Linked DNA regions of Homo sapiens: region 2 is linked to region 1. A link means that fine-mapping ties the variant in region 1 to the expression of a gene that starts in the linked region. Tissue or cell type: whole blood. Region 1 holds a variant in brackets; the other region holds the start of a gene. All regions are shown on one strand. Distances are between the middles of the regions. Region 1 overlaps AQP9 (aquaporin 9). Region 2 holds the start of AQP9 (aquaporin 9).

Region 1 (5,381 bases):
ATGCATTGTTTATGCAGAGGAACTGAGAACAAGCCACTCACACTGTGACCACCTCAAAATCAACTATGCCCCCACCCTCAGCAACCCACAGTCATTTTCCTTTAAAGATACATCTCTTTTGAGCTTGTTTTTATATCCTCTGGGCATGGCCGGAGGAACTGCTAGATATAGATTTAAATCTTATACATATATTGGATAAGCATATTGACTTTTAAAAGATATCGAAGTTAATAGCTACATCAGTCTGTTTGGGGTGACTGCTTTATAGATAGAGGGATTCAAGCCTATTAAAAAAACAGCCACTTGAGCACATCAAGTTTCTTTTTATACCTGACTCTCTTTTCATCAAGATAAACATTCTAAACTGTTATCCAAGGATGCCATGAAAATGATCATTCCTCCTTCTCTCCCTGCTCAGATACACACTCTCTCTTTCACGTGCATACACACCCCTCTTTCTCCTCATAGGCAGTAGTTCTCTGCCTAGAAGACTGAATTCCACCTGAGGTCTCTAGATGGTTTTCTGTATATTCTTCTTCCTAACCTGCCCTCTCACTTCTCCAATCTTCCCTTGCAGGTGGTCACATCAACCCAGCTGTGTCTTTAGCAATGTGTCTCTTTGGACGGATGAAATGGTTCAAATTGCCATTTTATGTGGGAGCCCAGTTCTTGGGAGCCTTTGTGGGGGCTGCAACCGTCTTTGGCATTTACTATGGTGAGTAAAGTCCCTGAGTCCTAAGGTTAGGAAGAGCTGGGCATAATTTGAAAGTCAGAATTACTTGGTAGGCACAGGCGAGAAAAAGCAAGGACGGGAAGCATTCTACAAGTGACAGCAAGTTCTAAATTTGAGAAAATGAGGCCATATTACCATTCCAGCAAATTCGTGAATCCTGTTAATGAAAATGGTCATATCTTAAATGGGGAGCAGAACTTAAAGGAAGCCTGTCTTTGTGCCAAGCCAGCACTGCAACATACACATCCATACAACAAGCAGTAGGCCAGTGGCTTCCCCACTGCTGTCTCTGATTTGGCTGGGAAAAGAGGTGTTTTCTGGTGACAAAGGTGTGACCAGTAAGTATTGAGAGAAGGACTCTGGGAAGATGTCTTTGAAGGAAGAGACACAGCAGAGATGTGGGCTGGGTGGGAGCCTCATTGCCCTTCTATCAAACAGCCAGGGCTTCCACTCTGCAACAGTCCTTGGGAAAAACACAGTATTGGTCATAGAAGACCAGACTTTAGCTCTAGCTGTTCAGTAAATACCTGTGCAACTTAAATAAGTCATCTGATCTGACTAGCCTCAGTTTCCTCCTCTGGAAAATGAGGGAATTGAATCAGATGACTCTCGAGGCCTTTCAAACTAAAACACCTTGGTGTTCCCATGAAATCAACTGTTAAAGCAGCTCCTTCCTTCTAACCCAAGGTAAGCCTTAATACATTATGACTTACCCAAACTGAAGACCTTAGGAAGTAGAATTTATGAACCAGGCCTTATAGAAATGGGTCATGGAGGGCTGGGTGTGTGGTGGCTCATGCCTGTAATCCCAACACTTTGGGAGGCATAAGTGGGAGGATCGTTTGAGCCCAGTAGTTCAAGACCAGCCTGGGCAACATAGGGATACCTCGTCTCTTCAGAAAAAAAAATTAAAAATAAGCCAGGTGTGGTAACTCACATCTGTAGTCCCAGCTACTCAGGAGGCTGATAAGAGGATTGCTTCAGCCCAGATCAAGGCTGCAGTGAGCCAGGATCATGCCATTGCACTCCAGCCTGGGCAGCAGAGCAAGACCCTGTCTCCAAAGAAGAAAAAAAAGAAAAAAAAAAAGGAAAAGAAATAGGTTATGGAAAGGGACTTTTCCCCATAGAGTGTCTCTCTGAGAATTAGAGTCTAAAAGGGCTAAAATGGAATTCAAGAACACACAGGAAATTCAGAGCCCGCTGCTGTGGCAAGAATGGCCTGGGGTCAGTGCTAGCTGTGGCAGTGGCTGCAATACCCCTGGCTCTAAGGGCATCTTCAGTATACTGCAACACCCTCAAATTCTGGAGTGGTATTAGGGGTTACTGAGAGCCCTCTGGGAATTATAAATTATTCCTAGAGCAAGACCAAGCCCCACTTTGGCTTACAGTTGACCTCGAAAACTCCAAGAATTCCCCCAAAAGAGAACTCATTCCCAGGACCCTATCGAAGAATAATTTGTCCAAGTTTGCAGTGGGCCATTCAGAGAGGCCAAAGGCCTTCTTCCTTTGACCCTCCATCCTGGGATTCACCTGGGCATCTCTAAAACTATCATTCCTCGGAAGTAGAGAGAGACAAATGACATGGCTATGCCAAGCTCAATCTGAGTGACTGGTTGTTTAGCACAAGGCTTGGCACAGGCCTCCTTCAACTCTTCCCAGGGAACACTAATGTGCCAGAGCTTTCTCTTTCATAGATGGACTTATGTCCTTTGCTGGTGGAAAACTGCTGATCGTGGGAGAAAATGCAACAGCACACATTTTTGCAACATACCCAGCTCCGTATCTATCTCTGGCGAACGCATTTGCAGATCAAGTAAGTGTAGATTCAACAAAGACTTAACTTTGGTGAAAAGATATGCTCTCATAAGGGGAATGCATTGGAGAATTAGAGACCAATCAGAAAGGAGAGATTATATTTCCAAAGGCAGAGGTTGCTGGGCATAACCCAAGCTTTCTTGATAATCGTTTTACCTTTACAAGGAGCTGATACCACCAGAAAAGTTTTCTCCTTCCTCTTTAATACGTACACTTGTTTAACATTAGTTGAGATCCAGAAAAGAGTGAATGACTAAACATTTCAATCCCTGTAGACACAAATGGACTTCACTTCACTATTGACTCTTTTGAACAAGTGGTCTAAGTGTGGAGGCCACAAGAGAAGATATTTCTATTTCAAATCAAAGACTGTGAAGGGTGGTAGTTGAGCCTAGGGGATCATCAATCCTCTCTGTCTCACCATGTGCATAGGTTTATTTATTTAAACTCTCAAGGTGGCTAGAAGTATCTCTGCTTATTGACCTTTAAACAAGCTTCTAGCAC[C/G]CAAGCATACTGTGGTGTAACCAATAGCACACCTATTTGGTCAGCTTATGGCAGGACTAACATTGTCAACTCAAAAGACTCTTCTTCCCTTACTGTGTCCCAAGAAGGCTGCTGGTTATCTTGGTCAGGGCAGTGGAAGGAAGGCTATATTTTTCAGTATCTCTAAGTTCTTCCTCTATGATCAGGACTTATACAGTGGAGCAGATCAGAATGGGCATGTGTATAAAATGGATCTTCCAGTTCATCAGCTATGCCCACCTCCATTCAATGTATGGATGAAAAACTATGCCCTCATGTCCTCAGCTTTTTTACTTTCCACTTTCATCAATAAATCAAACAGGCAACAAGTGTTCATTAAAAACTCACTATGTGCTTGGCCCTTTGTCTGGAGCTTGAAAGACTGACGAGTAAATGTGAGTTGTAAAGATCCAAGATGCAGAGTCTGAATGCTTGAATTAAAATAGCTGTTCTGCCTCCAACTTCCTGCGTGGCTTCAGCAAAGTACTGAACTTTTTGGGTCGCAAGTTATTCACTTGTAAAATGGGGATAATATGAGCCTTCATGAAGTTACTTATGAGGATAAAAAGAATAATATGAGAAAAACGCATTGTAAGCAGTATCTGCCCAGAAATTTTGAATCTAGTTGAAGAGCATTGAACAAGGAAACAATGCAAAATAAGATATAATTAGACAGAGCTGGGCACGGTGGTTCACATCTTACTCCCTGCATTTTGGGAGGCCAAGGTGGACAGGTCACTTGAGCCCAGGAGTTCACTACCAGCCTGGGCAACATGGCAAAACCCTGCCTCTACCAAAAATACAAAAATTAGCCATGCGTGGTGGTGCTTGCATGTAGTCCCAGCAACTTGGGAGGCTGAGGTGGGAGGATAGCTTGCACCCAGGAGTTGGAGGCTGCAGTGAGCTATGATTACACCACCACACCTCAGCCTGGGCAAAAAAGAAGAAAATTAGATAGGAAACTGGAGTATAGCGACCATATTATAATAGAAATTTGAAGCAGAGAGCATAGAAGAGCGAGGACAATTTTGGTTATTTTGGTGTTTTTCTCTAAGCTTTTTTTTTTTTTTTTTAAGACTGAGCCTGTTGCCCCAGGCTGGAGTGCAGTGGCGTGATCTCAGCTCACTGCAACCTCCACCTCCCAGGTTCAAGCAATTCTCCTGCCTCAGCCTTTGGAGTAGCTAGGATTCCCAGTGTGAGCCACCACTCCTGGCTAATTTTTGTATTTTTAGTAGAGACGGGGTTTCACCATGTTGGCCAGACTGGTCTCGAACTCCTGACCTCATAATCCGCCTGCCTAAGCCTCCCAAAGCTGTATCTTGATCAATGCTGACCTGCATACCATATCCTGAGCTTCCTTCATTGTGTCCTTGTCTCAGAGTGAGTTGGCAATTTCTCTAAGGTCTGTGGTTTCTAAGCCCATTATTGTGTATAAAGTCAAGTAGAAAAAGCGAATATTAGAAAACCCTGAGGCTGTAACCGTCAGCAAACCCTGAATGCTGTCCGTATTCTTAGGCTTTGGAGAGAGTTCCAAAAATTGCCAATTATCAGTCAGTCAACACCCAACAGAGCTCTTGGCCATCATGACCATATTTTGGGGTCACCTTATTTCAAGATTACTAAATTGTTTAGCTGTAAATACTCTTCAAGCATATTCCTTGGTTTAGTTAATAATCAATCATTTATTTACCCAATAACTATTTACTGGGCACCTACTTAGCCAAGTACAGCTCTATACTCTTCCTTCTTCAAGGAGTTCAGAGTCTGAGGCTCAATCTAACAAGTAAGTAGATACTCTTTTGCAGAGTGACAGGGACACTGATACAAGTAAAGTCAGAATGTCATGGAAGCCCAGAGGAGGGAGCTTTTACTCTGCAAGAGAGAGTTGGAGAAGGCATTCCAGAGAAGAGTGCTCTTGGGGGAACATGTGTCTTTTAATATTAATTAAAAATTATTTTAACATTATTATTTTGGAAAGCAGATGAAATGATAATGAACTTAAACTTTAAAATCAGTTGCCTGGTTCCCATCCTGATTCTTCTGCTTACAAGTTTGACATTGGACAAGTGTCTTAACCTTGTTTTACTCGAGTTTTCTTATCTATAAACTGAGAATAATAGCAGGATTTACCTCACAGCATTACTGTGAAGTTTTAATGAGATAAAGCATATGAAGTACCTGGCACATAATAAATGTTCAATAAATAATAGCTATCATTTAACTGTTAAAGTAAAACAGTAGTTTGGAAAACTAATAACATAGAAACCAGCTATAATTGGCCAATTCAAATACCTATTATCATTTTTGTTTA
Region 2 (5,381 bases), 37 kb before region 1:
AAAAGCTTCCTCATGCTTCCAGTTAGAACTTTGGAGTCAGGGTATTTTGACAAAGGCTCCCTCCCAGATGGAATAAAGGAGGAATACTATTCATTGCTTACCTTCTTAAGATGCTTTTGAACATTTTGTTAGGTGGCTGGAACATTTTGTTCAGTGAATATTTTGTATGAGTAAGCTATGTTTGATGATGAGCTGTTCGTGGTGATGGAGGTGAGAAGTGTGACTGTCAATTGAAGGTAGTAAAACAGAAATAATAAAGATTCCATCCTCCTCTACCTAAGCATGAAATGTTCCATATCAAACTCTCAGTTCTCTTCAAACTCTCTCCCTAGGGAGCCTCTTTACTCCAGGCTCCAGTTATCACCACTATGAGCACACAGACATTCCTTCCTCATCTGGACCCATATCACTTCCTAACTTACATCGCTCAGAAGCCTCTGAGGCTCAGTTTTGCACAAGCAGAATTAATGATCTTCCACTGCACTTCTGGTCCTCTTCCAGGATTTCCTCTCCCAGGGCTCAGCAGCACCTTCCCCAGCAAGTTAGGAACTCAGGAACCAACTTTTCTCAGTCTCTTTTCCTCATCTCCCACATCTAATCCATGAAATTCTTCCAATTTTAAGATATAAAGAACTCTTGGATCCCTCCATTTCTCCACTGTCAAACTACCACCCAATTCTGGAATTCTGTAATACCCCCAAATGTATCTGCCTATGACCATTCCAAGCCCCCTCCAATCCCCTCTCCACCTCACAGCTCGGAGGATCTTTTCAAAACTCTAATCTGATCATGTCGTATTTCTGCTTAAACCACCTTAATGACTTACACTTTTAGCCCTAACTACCACTTACAAGGCCTAGTAAGGTCTGACCCTTGCCCACACCTCAGGGCTCATTTTGCATGCTGTACTCCTTCACTCTCTCTGGGGCCAACCACAGTAAATTTCTCTCATTCTTTGAGAGGCATCATGCTGTCCCCTACCCCTTACCCCCAAAGCCACCAAGGACTTTGTACATGCACTTTCTTCCCCACTTCATGTAGTTAATCCCATGCTTCTTTCTGATCTCAGTCCACACATGACTTCCTTGGAGAAGCCATCAGAGATCTCTCCAACAAAGTCAAATCCTTTTGCTATATTTGCTTATGGAAATATGGCCCCCATCTTTGCAGCATACATCTCAGTTGTGATTTTGTATTTATGTGTGTGGGATTATTTCACTTACATCTGTCTGCTTCACTAGACTCTAGGCTCTGTGAAGGACAAGAACCCTATGTGCTCTTGTTAAGTGCAGTGCTTGGCACATAATGAGTGTGCAGTAAATAGTTGTTAGATGAGTGAATGGGAAGACCAGAGAACGCTCTTGCATGTTATTAGCTGTAGTCACAGTAAGAAAGTCCTGTTTCTCTGGTCCATCCACTGGGACTTGGTAATGGTGTGGTCATAGGTAACTCTTCTAGACAATGGTATTTATGATAACTTCATCAGGAATTAAAGCCAAAGTGCTGAGGTTTTGTCCTGGTTCTGCAGTAGTGTGGCCTCAGGCAGGTTATAACTTTTTAAAGTCTAAATTCTAAATGTCACCTACAGATGAGAAGTCTCCTTCTGCCTTTGGCCTCTCACCAGCTGCTTTCTCCATGTCCTCTCCTCCCTCCCTTTTTGCAAAGCTAGGGGAGGGCCTGATGCAGAGCTGGCTTCCCTGTGGGAGGACTGGAAGGAACCACACAGCATGGATACTAATTCCATGAGTCCACATTGGTAATCAGAAACTAGGCCTGCCTTGCTATTTAGAAACTAATGCTATATTCTATTTCTTCAGATAAGCCAGTTTTGAAAAACAAGGCTTGAATATTTGGCAGGACAAGGAGCTACTCCCAAACACAGTTTCTTGCCAGCAAGGATGTCAATTTATCAAATTGAAAGGGTATAACCTAGGAGCCTCGGTTAGGTGTACTGGCTCCCTTTCTCGTTTGATTAGAATGACATACACGCTAATTGATCTCTTTCCGGCTCAGTCATCTCCATGCAGTAAAGAATTTCAAGCTGCTATTGTTTATTTCCTATGTATTATGTCTAAATATTTCATGGTGAATGAAGAAGAGTGACTATTTTCAAACTGGAATGCTTCTTCAGAAGAAACCCAAACTGGAATGTTTCTTCAGAAGAAACTTCAGAAGTCACCAAAAAGGTGACTCCTCCATCTTTCTGATTCTTGGATCCTAAAGTATCTTCAGCAAGTGAAGCCCAGTTTCATAACCGAAGAGGTGACTCCATCTGTCCTACAGACTTGCAGTGTGAAGCTTGCAATGGTTTCTCTGTATGTTAATTTCTCCATCTCTAGGATGGCCTATGTGGTTCTTACTAACCTCAGAGTGGTATCATGAAGCCACTGAAATGATACCAGAAGAAAACAAGAGTGATTAATCTTCTAGGATGATAAATCTATATTTTCTTCAAATTCTTCATTTTGCATAAAAACCTTTTTCAGAAAAGAATGTTAACATTGGATATATCTACACCTGATTTGACAGTTCCAAACTACACCCCAACCACCCACTTCTGAATGAGAAGAAAAAAAAATCAGAAGCCTGCAATTGTGTAACATGAAAATCTTTTCTGGACCAGGGCCCGTCACTGTGATTTGGCAACACAACTGGCACATCTCTTTTCTCATCTCTTGAAAAAAACCAACAGAGAAAAAAGTACCTTGAGAATAAAGGTAATGATTAATCTGTCAGGCACAAAAGGGATTGTTTTGGGGATTTCGGGTTCTAAGTCGCAGATTCAAACAAATAGCAGCGAACAGGGAATGACAGTTCCACCAGAAGACGATTAAGCCACAGCCTCTAATTGGAACGGCATTTGTACAGTCAGAGACTCTTACCAGACATCTCCAGGAATCTGTGAGCCATTGTCAAAACGTCCATTTTCATCTGGCTGTGAAAGTGAGGACCACAACAGGTAGGTATTGGTAGAAACAGGAGTCCTCAGAGAAGCCCCAAGATGCAGCCTGAGGGAGCAGAAAAGGGAAAAAGCTTCAAGCAGAGACTGGTCTTGAAGAGCAGCTTAGCGAAAGAAACCCTCTCTGAGTTCTTGGGCACGTTCATCTTGATTGTAAGTATTTCCTGATTTCCTACATTCAGACCCAATAATGCCTCCCTAGCTGCCAGGCTGGTAGTGGAGAGTTTTGTTTGGTTTGTTTTATTTAAGTTAATTGGGATCAGATTCATCTTTTCCAGGAAGAAACAAGTTACTAGAGGCTGTTTGACTATTTAGGGGTTGTGATATTAAGTTTTCAATTACCTATTGCATTTACCCACAAAAGTTGATGGGAATGGAAGAGAAGGAGTGAGTGAAGTGCCTTCTTTATTTCAGGTATTTACTTATACTCTAAAATGGCTTTGTGATTTAAAAGTCAGTCGTTAGTGTTTTCATTGATCAATTGATTTGTACCCTGCTTGCTTCCTCCAAGCATTGGGGTGACTCAGCCACCTGGAATAAGCATCAATAGTCAATAAATATAGTTGGCAAAAATATACATATGGATGGCAAGAAACATCTCAGTATGACAAGTACTTGACAAGTATTGTGCTGTCAGATCACTTGATTTTTAAGAAATTAAAAATTGCACTAGGTAGAAATAGTGTACCAGGCAATAGTCCAGCTTTAGTTTTGTGTCATTTTTGGTCTCTATTTAAAGCAAAGTAATCTCTAAATATCTTTGGAGATTTACAAGACAATTACAAGAACCTTCTAGATATAAACGAGGGACGACTTCTAAGAACCTCTTGAGGATTGCCCAGAGATTTACTCAGCTATTAACAAGAGACTGGAAAGTTTACTTAAGTGGTCTGGGCTTTCATTTTGCTGCACGTTCTAGCATTCTCTGTATCCTGAAGTTTTACCTGGAACCAGGCCATTTGTGAATAGAAATGTATTATCATGTGGCAACTATTGATTTCAACTGGTTTTTTTTATCCTGCTTAAGGATTTCCTACTCCAGGTATAAATAATTTCATTTTCCTTAAAGTTATAGAGAATAGCCCATAAACTCTGTGCATTAAAAGTTCTTTGCTTGGGGCAAATACATAATAATTTAGAAGAATAAGCTTGGAATGCATCAGCTAAGCCAAGAATGAGAAACAAATGTGAACTCAAAAAATTGAACTAGTGGAATGTGAAGAGAGAGTCATAAGTTTTCTGGTCTCTGAGAAACACATTAGACCAGATTCGTTACAGTATTTTCAGGGAGTTACGGACAATTTCTTGCACTCCTCATCTTCCCTTGGCATTCATTCCTGGCTGCTCTGACCACACTCACTGTCATAATGTAGCAAGACATTATGTAGTAAGACATTATGTAAGTAGTTATTTCTAACTAAAATAAAAGAAATAAAAGAGAGAAGATGAAAGTCAGTGATTCTTATGATTCCCGGTCACTGCTTACTGGAAAATCTTTCTTAGTGAGACTGAGACCCCTCTGTCATGTTACTTGACAATCTGGCCCCAAAGAAGCAGTTGTCAATACAGAGTGATTACAGCCTCACAGTGACGAGTGAGTCAGAAAAGTGAAGCAAATTCAGTTACAATTCTTAGTGCTCTGCAGAAAACAGAGGAGGAAATGAACTACACATCTTTTTTTTTTTTTTTTTGCAACCAAAAAGTTTAAAACCCTCTGTATTTCTTAAGAAGAACCTGTTTCATAATCCCGTGCTTTCTGTGTTGAAAGTGAAATTTGCTTTCAGCAGTTCACTGTTCAACTGGCCTTGTGTCTTCCCCACTATGCAAGGTAGGGGCTAAATAAAGAACATCTTGATATTGTCTGTTGAAAAATTAAAACTTGTATGTTCTGGATAAAGCCAGTCATTTCCTGAAATATTTAATTTCCATTTATACTATACATTTATTTTCTAAAGTGAACCCTAATAAAATCTGCAACCTTGATTATCATCTTCAGTTTTGTTGGAGCTTGTGGGGATGTATAAACAAAAAGTTCCTGCACAAACACAATTTTTTTAAACCAAGAAATCTACATGGTTTTGCTGAAAGTTTATCCAAAGTAATTTTCTGCTTTATTAGAGAATGTGCATTTTGCCTTGTATTTTCTAGTAAAAAGCTTTGTACATTGATAAGGCAAAGGGAAGGGGAACATCGAAAAGATGGCAGAGGATATAAAGGACTCAGTCTTTCAAATATGTGAGATTGTTTTTTTTCCGCCAACCTTGGGAGTCTGGTTCTATTTTTTTTCCCTCCTTTCAAAAACTGCTCTTATGGGGAGCATCTCAAACTAATCTAACACCATGGTATAAATTACGGGTCCCCAACACATGGGCCACGGACTGGTACAGGTGGTCCCTGGTGCTAAAAGGTTGGGAACAGTTGG

The links. PIP is the estimated chance that this variant, and not a neighbour inherited with it, causes the effect.
Region 2: AQP9 starts here. The variant in region 1 is fine-mapped to the expression of AQP9 in whole blood (TOPMed, PIP above 0.99).

Annotation. Positions count from the first base shown.
Region 1 is chr15:58,172,491-58,177,871 of GRCh38, forward strand. AQP9 (aquaporin 9) reads left to right here. Exons shown (of 6, transcript NM_020980.5): 3 at 578-715; 4 at 2,428-2,546. Among named protein-coding and RNA genes, the nearest start is that of AQP9, 37 kb to the left of the region's middle. The variant C/G (reference allele first, on the strand shown) is at 3,053.
Region 2 is chr15:58,135,565-58,140,945 of GRCh38, forward strand. It overlaps AQP9 (aquaporin 9), which reads left to right and starts at 2,817. Exons shown (of 6, transcript NM_020980.5): 1 at 2,817-3,112. The coding sequence starts at 3,002.